Linked DNA regions of Homo sapiens: region 1 is linked to region 2. Evidence: fine-mapped expression QTL. A gene starts in region 2. The other region holds a variant in brackets. All regions are shown on one strand. Distances are from middle to middle. Region 1 overlaps DNMT1 (DNA methyltransferase 1). Region 2 holds the start of DNMT1 (DNA methyltransferase 1).

The links. PIP is the estimated chance that this variant, and not a neighbour inherited with it, causes the effect. A credible set is the group of variants that fine-mapping cannot tell apart.
Region 1: its variant is the best candidate, but not a certain one, in a credible set for the expression of DNMT1 in whole blood (INTERVAL, PIP 0.63).

Annotation. Positions count from the first base shown.
Region 1 is chr19:10,169,332-10,173,714 of GRCh38, reverse strand. It overlaps DNMT1 (DNA methyltransferase 1), which reads left to right. Exons shown (of 41, transcript NM_001130823.3): 9 at 541-625. Among named protein-coding and RNA genes, the nearest start is that of DNMT1, 23 kb to the left of the region's middle. The variant G/ATTTG (reference allele first, on the strand shown) is at 1,911.
Region 2 is chr19:10,192,788-10,197,170 of GRCh38, reverse strand. DNMT1 (DNA methyltransferase 1) reads left to right here and starts at 2,218. Exons shown (of 41, transcript NM_001130823.3): 1 at 2,218-2,351. The coding sequence starts at 2,272. RefSeq lists an enhancer at 1,785-2,014 and a silencer at 2,275-2,514.

The DNA of each region.
Region 1 (4,383 bases), 23 kb after region 2:
TTCAAGACCAGCCTGACCAACATGGCGAAACCCCGTCTCTACTAAAAATTCAAAACTTAGCTGGGCGTGGTGGAATGTGCCTTTAATCCCAGCTACTCAGGAGGCTGAGTCAGAAGGATTGCTTGAACCCAGGAGGTAGAGGCTGCAGTGATCTGAGATCATTCCACTGCACTCCAGCCTGAGTGACAGAGCAAGACTCCATCTCAAAAAAAAAAAAAAAAGTTTAAAAAGAAGAACTTTATCGTGTGTTTCCATGGCAACCATATCGTTATGAAGTATCTGAATTTGGGGTCAGATCATTAGCGTTTAGATTCAAGTAGAATTCTCCTGTTTTCTTGGAAGGAATGAATCGAGGGCAGCTGGCATTCGAACCAGGTGTAAAAGTCATATCAAATACTAAATGTTAAATGAGTATGTGTCTGTCAGGGCTCCTGAGATAATGAAGATTGCTTTTGGGGGAAAGAGGAGCTTTATGAAAACTGCTTCTTTGGGGAAGCTCCTGGCACTCACACTTGGGGTCTGTGTTATTTTGCTTGACAGAGTTGCTAGACCGCTTCCTGCAGAAGAACCTGAAAGAGCAAAATCAGGAACGCGCACTGAAAAGGAAGAAGAAAGAGATGAAAAAGTAAAGCTCTATCACCTCTAAGTTTGTTAATTCTCCCTTAATCCTATATGGTCCCAATTTCCTTCCAGGACGTGGGGACAGGGGGTGGGGAACGTGGAAGAACAAGATGGGTTTTGCTAGTGATCGAAATGCCTTTGACTTTGGCTAAACACCTTTCAAACTTGTTTTCTCGTGGTCTCTACATGAAAGGTGGGTTATGAGATTGTGATAGTGAGGACCCTTGCTACTTATTTGTGATATTTTATTTTATTTTATTTATTTATTTATTTTTGAGACAGTCTCCCACTCTGTCACCCAGGCTGGAATGAGTACAGAGGTGCGATCTCGGCTCGTTGCAACCTCTGCCTCCCAGGTTCAAGTGATTCTCATGTCCCAGCCTCTTGAGTCACTGGGACTACAGGCGCCCGCCGCCATACTCGGCTAATTTTAGTGGAGATGGGGTTTCACTGTGTTGGCCAGGCTGATCTTGAACTCCTGACCTCGAGTGATCCACCTGCCTCAGCCACCAAAGTGCTAGGATTACAGGCATGAGCCACCACACCGGCCAACCTATGCCACTTAATCAACTAGTCACAGAGCTTCAGTTTGTCACCTCGCCTTCTTGCTTCTCTGGCTGATGAGATCTTTGTGAAGATCTAATTTTCAGACGTACGAGGTGCTAAAACTTTTTTTTTTTTTTTTTTTGAGATGGAGTCTTGCTCTGTTGCCCAGGCTGGAATGCAGTGGTGTGATCTTGTCTCACCGCAACCTCTGCCTCCCGGGTTCTTGTGCCTCAGCCTCCTGAGTAGCTGGGATTACAGGTGCCTGCCACCACAGCCAGATAATTTTGTATTTTTAGTAAAGATGGGGTTTCTCCATGTTGATCAGGCTGGTCTTGAACTCCCAATCTCAGGTGATCCACCTGCCTTGGCCTCCCAAAGTGCTGGGATTATAGGCGTGAGCCACCACACCCGGCCTAAAATACTTTTCAAACTTATTTTTTTGTAGTTCTCTACATGGAAGGTGGGTTATGAGGTTGTCATAGCGAGGATCTTTGCTACTTATTTGTGGTATTTATTTAATTTAATTTAATTTTTTTTTTTTGAGACAGTCTCCCGCTCTATCACCCAGGCTGGAGTGCAGAGGTGCGATCTTGGCTCATTGCAACCTCCGCCTCCCAGGTTCAAGTAATTCTCATGTCCCAGCCTCCCAACTAGCTGGGGCTACAGGCGCCTGCCACCACACCTGGCTAATTTTTGTGTTTTTATTTATTTATTTATTTATTTATTTATTTATTTATTTATTT[G/ATTTG]AGACGGAGTCTCGCTCTGTCGCCCAGGCTGAAGTGCAGTGGCTTGATCTCCGCTCACTGCAAGCTCCACCTCCTGGGTTCACACCATTCTCCTGCCTCAGCCTCCCGAGTAGCTGGGACCACAGGCGCCTGCCACCATGCCCGGCTAATTTTTTGTATTTTTAGTAGAGAAGGGGTTTCACCACGTTAGCCAGGATGGTCTTGATCTCCTGACCTCGTGATCCTCCCATCTCGGCCTCCCAAAGTGCTGGGATTACAGGCGTGAACCACCGCGCCTAGCCAATTTTTGTGTTTTTAGTAGAGACGGGGTTTCACCATGTTGGCCAGGCTGGTCTCAAACTGCTGACCTCGAACGGTCCACCTGCCTCAGCCATCAAAGTGCTGGGATTACAGGCACGAGCCACCACACCGGCCAACCTATGCTACTTAAATCAACTAGTCAGTTTCAGTCTGTCACCTCAGCCACCTTCTCTGGCTGACGAGATCTTGGTGAAGATCTAATTTTCAGATGTAGGAGGTGCTAAAATTCTTTAGCATCATCCAGACATAAAGTTGTATTCTCCTCTCTGAAGTCAGACCAGCTCTTTCCCCAGTCCCTCATCTTCTTTGTAAAATCTGAGTCTAAGGTTCTATGCAATACAGATGCTGGGTCCTGTTTTTTTTTCTGTTTGTTTTGTTTTTTAATAAGATGACTGAGGGCCGGGTGTGGTGGCTCATGCCTGTAATTCTAGCATTTTGGGAGGCCGAGGTGGGTGGATCGCTTGAGCTCAGGAGTTCAGGGCCAGCCTGGGCAATGTAGTGAGACCCCGTCTCTGCAAAAAATACAAAAATCAGCTGGATGTGGTGGAGCTTACAACAGGCAGTGTGCCTGTAGTTCCAGCTTCTCAGGAGGCTGAGGCAGGAAGATCACTTGAGCTCAGGAGGCTGAGGATACAGTGAGCCATGATTGTCCCACTGCAATCCAGCCTGGATGATAAAGTGAGACTGGTCTTAAAACAAACAAACAAACAAACAAAACAAACAAACAAAAAAAAACCAAGATGACTAGAAGTTTCTTACCAACTTAGGTAGGTGACGAGTGCCTTACTTGGGAGCTTAGTAAAGGATGGCTGTCCATTGGGGAATCAACTAAAATGTACAGTAATTTTTTTTGTTTTTTGAGACGGAGTTTTGTTCTACTTGCCCAGGCTGCAGTGCAGTGGTGTGATCTCGGCTCACTGCAACCTCTGTCTCCTGCGTTCAAACAAATTCTCCTGCCTTAGCCTCCCGAGTAGCTGGGATTACAGGCTTCCGCTACCACGCCCAGCTAATTAACTTTTTGTACTTTTAGTAGAGACAGGGGTTCACCATGTTGGCTAGGCTGGTCTCGAACTCCTGACCCCAGGTGATCCACCCGCCTCGGCCTCCCAAAGTGCTGGGATTACAGGCGTGAGCCACTGCATCCGGCCGCTGTACAATAATTTTTGAACCATTCAGTACTTGAGGTTGGTCTTTCTTGCTTTTTTTCTTTTTTTTTAATTGAGATGGAATTTTGCTCTTTCGCTCAGGCTGGAGTGAAGTGGCGCAATTTTAGCTCACTACAACCTCCACCCCCTGGGTTCCAGCGATTCTCCTGCCTCAGCCTCTCCAGTAGCTGGGATTATAGGCGCCCGCCACCCCGTCCGCCTAATTTTTGTATTTTTAGTAGAGACAGGGTTTTGCCGTGTTGGCCAGGTTGGTCTGGAACTCCTGACCTCAGGTGATCCACCCACCTCAGCCTCCCAAAGTCCAGGATTACAGGGGTGAAACACCACGCCCGGCCGAGGCTGGTCTTTCATTGATCACCTTTCCTACCCTGATCCTAGTTAAATTAGACAGCAGTTGCAGTCAGTGCATACCTCGAATTTGTTTCAGAACAAGCAGTCCTAACGGGCTAGTTCAACCACCACCTTCCAAAGAAGGAACCTGGGGCAAGATCGAAATCCCTCACCTGTAAGCATACTCTCAGGATTTCTTCTTGTAGTAGGAAGATTTGCTAAGCGTTTTTTTTATTTTTATTTGAGACGGAGTCTCACTCTGTCGCCCAGGCTGGAGTGCAGTGGTGCGATCTCCGCTCACTTCAAGCTCCGCTTCCCAGGTTCACGCCATTCTCCTGCCTCAGCCTCCCGAGTAACTGGGACTACAGGCACCTGCTACCACGCCAGGCTAATTTTTTTTTGTATTTTTAGTAGAGACGGGGTTATTTATTTATTTACTTATTTATTTTTTGAGACGGAATCTCGCTCTTGTCGCCCAGGCTGGAGTGCAGTGGCACGATCTCGGTTCACTGCAAGCTCTGCCTCCCAAGTTCACGCCATTCTCCTGCCTCCACCTCCCCAGTAGCTGGGACTGCAGGCGCCCGCCAACACGCCCGGCTAATTTTTTTTTTTTTTTTTTTTTGTATTTTTAGTAGAGACGGGGTTTCACTGTGTTAGCCAGGATGGTCTCGATCTCC
Region 2 (4,383 bases):
AGTAGCTGGGATTACAGGCACACCACCATGCCCAGCAAATTTTTATATTTTGAGGAGAGACAGGGTTTCACCATGTTGGCCAGGCTGGTCTCAAACTCTTGACCTCAGGTGATCCACCCGCCTTGGCCTCTCAAAGTGCTGGGATTACAGGCGTGAGCCACCAAGCCTGACGGGTAGTAATTTATTTTTTATATAATTTTTTTCTTCTTTTTTTGGTAGAGACGAGGTTTTGCCATGTTGCTCAGGCTGGTCTAAAACTACCGGGCTCAAGTGATCTGCCTACCCGGGCCTCCCAAAGTGCAGGGATCACAAGCATGAACCACCATGCCTGGCTGTAATTTTTCATATATTCCGGATATTAACCCTTTACCAGATAATACAGTTTGCAAACTTTTTTTTTCCCCATTCTGTAGGTTGCCTTTTCACTGTTGGTCATTTCTTTTGCTGTATAGCTATCCTTAAGTTTGTTGCAAACCCATTTGTCTATCTTTTGTCTTGTTGCCTGTGTTTTGCTGTCATATCCAAGAAATCATTGCCAAATCCATTGTCATGAAGCTTTTCCCCATGTTTTCTTCTAGGAGCACTATAGTTTCAGGTCTTATGTTTAATCTTTAATAAGTTTTGTGTTTTTGTATATGGTGTAAGGTAAGGGTCCAACTTCATTCTTTTGTATGTGGTTATACAGTTTTCTCAGCACCATTTGTTAAAGACACAATCTTTCCCCCATGTTCTGGTGCTTTAAAAAAAAAAAAAATTCTGGCTGGTTACGGTGGCTTAGGCCTATAATCCCAGCACTTTGGGAGGCTGAGGCAAGTGGACTGCTTGAGGCTAGGAGTCCCAGACTAGCCTGGCCAACATGGTGAAACCCTGTCTCTACCACCGAAGATACAAAAATTAGCCAGGCGTGGTGGAGTACGCCTGTAATCCCAGCCTACTAGGGAGGCTGAGGCATGAGAATCGCTTGAACCTGGGAGGCAGAGGTTGCAGTGAGCCAAGATCTCACCACTGCACGCCAGCCGGGGTGACAGAGTGAGGCAGGGTCTTACCCTGTCGCCCAGGCAGGAGTCCAGTGGCCCAATCATGGCTCATTGCAGCCTACACTGCCAGGGTTCAAGCCATCCTCCCACCTCAGCCTCCCAAGTAGCTAGGATTACAGGTGTGTGTCACCATGCCCAGCAAATCTTTGTATTTTTTGTAGAGATGGGGTATCCCTATGTTGCTCAGGCTGGTCTTGAACTCCTAACCTCAAGCGATCCTCCCACCTGGGCCTCTCAAAGCACTGGGATTACAGGCGTGAGCCACTGCGCCTGACATGGTGCTTCTTAATTTATTCTTACTTTTTATTTTTATTTTTTTGAGACAAGGTCTTGCTCTGTCTCCCAGGCTGGAATGTAGTGGTACAATCATGGCTCACTGCAACCTCTGCCTCTCCGGTTCAAGTGATCTTCCTGCCTCAACCTCTGGAGTAGTTTGGACTATGGGCACATGCCACAACGACTAGCTAATTTTTGTTTTTCTTTTTTTCTTTCTTTCTTTCTTTCTTTTTTTTTTTTTTTGAGATGCAGTTTCTCTATGTTACCTAGGCTGGTCTAAAACTCCTGGGCTCAAGCGATCCTCCCACCCTGGCCTCCCAAAGTGCTGGGATGACAGGCGTGAGCCACGTGGTGCTTAAAAAAGGCAACAAAAAACCCCCCACACACTGGGTATAGAAGTGGCATGGGCCTCTATACACTGTGAGATTCTTGGTACTAGCTACAAATTCTGTGTATACTCAAGATTTTCTAGAGTAGGTGCAATTACCCCGTTTTACAGATGAGGACACAGAGGCTGAGCCGTAGTGACCCACCTAAGGTCGTATAGCCAGCAAATAGATGGAGGTTGGATTGGAACTGAGGACTTTACTCAAGGGCTCTCACAAACCCTTGGGGGCTTCTCGCTGCTTTATCCCCATCACACCTGAAAGAATGAATGAATGAATGCCTCGGGCACCGTGCCCACCTCCCAGCAAACCGTGGAGCTTGGACGAGCCCACTGCTCCGCGTGGGGGGGGTGTGTGCCCGCCTTGCGCATGCGTGTTCCCTGGGCATGGCCGGCTCCGTTCCATCCTTCTGCACAGGGTATCGCCTCTCTCCGTTTGGTACATCCCCTCCTCCCCCACGCCCGGACTGGGGTGGTAGACGCCGCCTCCGCTCATCGCCCCTCCCCATCGGTTTCCGCGCGAAAAGCCGGGGCGCCTGCGCTGCCGCCGCCGCGTCTGCTGAAGCCTCCGAGATGCCGGCGCGTACCGCCCCAGCCCGGGTGCCCACACTGGCCGTCCCGGCCATCTCGCTGCCCGACGATGTCCGCAGGCGGTAGGTACCATGGGGGGGAACACGGACTCAGGGGGACAGGCAGGGCGCTGGGTGGGGGGTCGCTTCCCCTCGGGGTGGCCGGTGGCCGCTGCTGACAGACGGGCGCGCATGCGTGGGGTGGTGCGGCGCGCAGCGGCAGTTGGCGCGGGCAGGGTGGCACTTCCGGTCGCGCGTGCCCGGGCTGTTTGGCGCCAAAATGGACCGTGGATTCCCCCGTAGCTCCCTGGTGGCTAGAAACTAGGCGGGGTGGGGGTTCTCTTTTGATCCCCAAATACAGCAAGCTTTGGGTTCGTTTCCGGGGTCCCCTTCTTCAAGCAGCGGTGGGCCGGGCTCTTGACTCCAGCTTGGTCGCACAGGAAGTGGGCAGCCCGCGGCCAACGGACACCCCTCGGGCACCGGCACTTCGGCCTCCACTTCCGGTGTCCGGCCCGGTCCCCGGGGGCGCTTCTGTGGTGGGGGGTCCCTCAGTGCCTTTCCCCCAAAGCTGTGCATCTCGATGGCGGCCTCCAGAGACGGATGTCACCCGTCGGGGCCTGGGCTGGGCTGGCTCATGTTCGAGAGCCCAGCCTTCCGTGGGGTACTCATTCTGTCAGTTGGGACTGTGTGGTTCTTGCTCCTTGGGAAAGTCCATGTTTTGGCAGGAACTTTAACCGTGCATTGCAGCGCAGGGCCCGGGAAGCGTGAAGGCTGCATGGTTGGTCTTTTCCTGTAAATCTGTGCCTGTGAGCCGTGGGCATCAGGGAAGTCTTGCTAATGAGAACTGGCTACACTTTCGTGTGTGTTTGTGTGTGTTCATGGGTGTGTTCTTTAGTGTGTGTCTAATGTTGGAGGCCCTGGCTTTAGCAGTTCATGCCTCTGTCCAACTTCCGTGCACAAGGATCAGTGGGAGCACTGGTCCCAGCCCCTTGTTCATGAACGCCATCAGTTCATTCCTGAAAACTTGTTCAAGTGAGGTGTGCGTGAGTCAGAGGAACCCTCACCAGGCGTGGACACTTCCAGCTGGATTTGTGAAAGCACTCTTTGCCATTTTTCTATTTCCTTAGGCTTGTTAACTGACCTGGTTGGGCCAGTCCGGTTCTGATTTGGGTCTTTGGGGAGGGATGGATATTTGGTTCAACCCCCGCTTTTTTTCTTTTCTTTTTTTTTTTTTTTTTGAAGGCTGGGTGCTGTGGCTTATGCCTGTAATCCCAGCAATTTGGGAGGCAGTGGCGGACGAATCTCTTGAGCCAGGAGTTTGAGACCAGCCTGGGCAACAAGGCAAAACCCCATGTCTACTAAAAATACAAAAATTAGCCTGGAGTAGTGCCGTGCGCCTGTGGTCCCAACTACTCAACAGACTAAGGTGGGAGTATCACTTGAGCCCCAGAGGTTGAGGCTGTGTGTAGCGAGCTGAGATCGCGCTATTGCACTCCAGCCTGGGTGACAGAGTGAGACCCTGTCTCAAAAAAAGAAACACTTTTTATTTTTAGAGATGGGTCTCACTCTGTTGTCCAGGCTGGAGTGCCCTGGCACAATTATAACTCACTGTAGCCTTGAACTCCTGGGCTTAAGGGATCCTCAGCCTCCTGAGTAGCTGGGACCACAGGCGCCCACCACCATGCCCAGATGACTTTCTTAGTTTTTGTTTCTGTATACGTGAGGTTTCACCATATTGCCCAGGCTGGTCTTAAACCCCTGCCCTCAAGCAGTCCTCCTGCCTTTGTGTCCCAAAGGTTAGGATTACAAGTATGAGCCATCATGCCTTAACTACTACTTTTTTTTGTTTGTTTGTTTGAGATGGAGTCTCATTCTTTCACCCAGGCTGGAATGCGGTGGCGTGATCTCGGCTCACTGCAACCTCCACTTTCAGGGTTCAAGTGATTCTCCTGCCTCAGCCTCCGAAGTAGCTGGGATTACAGGTGCACACCACCACGCCTGGCTAATTTTTGTGTTTTCAGTGGAGTCGGGGTTTCTCCATGTTGGTCAGGCTGGTCTCGAACTCCTGACCTCGTGATCCACCTGCCTCAGCCTCCCAAAGTGCTGGGATTATAGT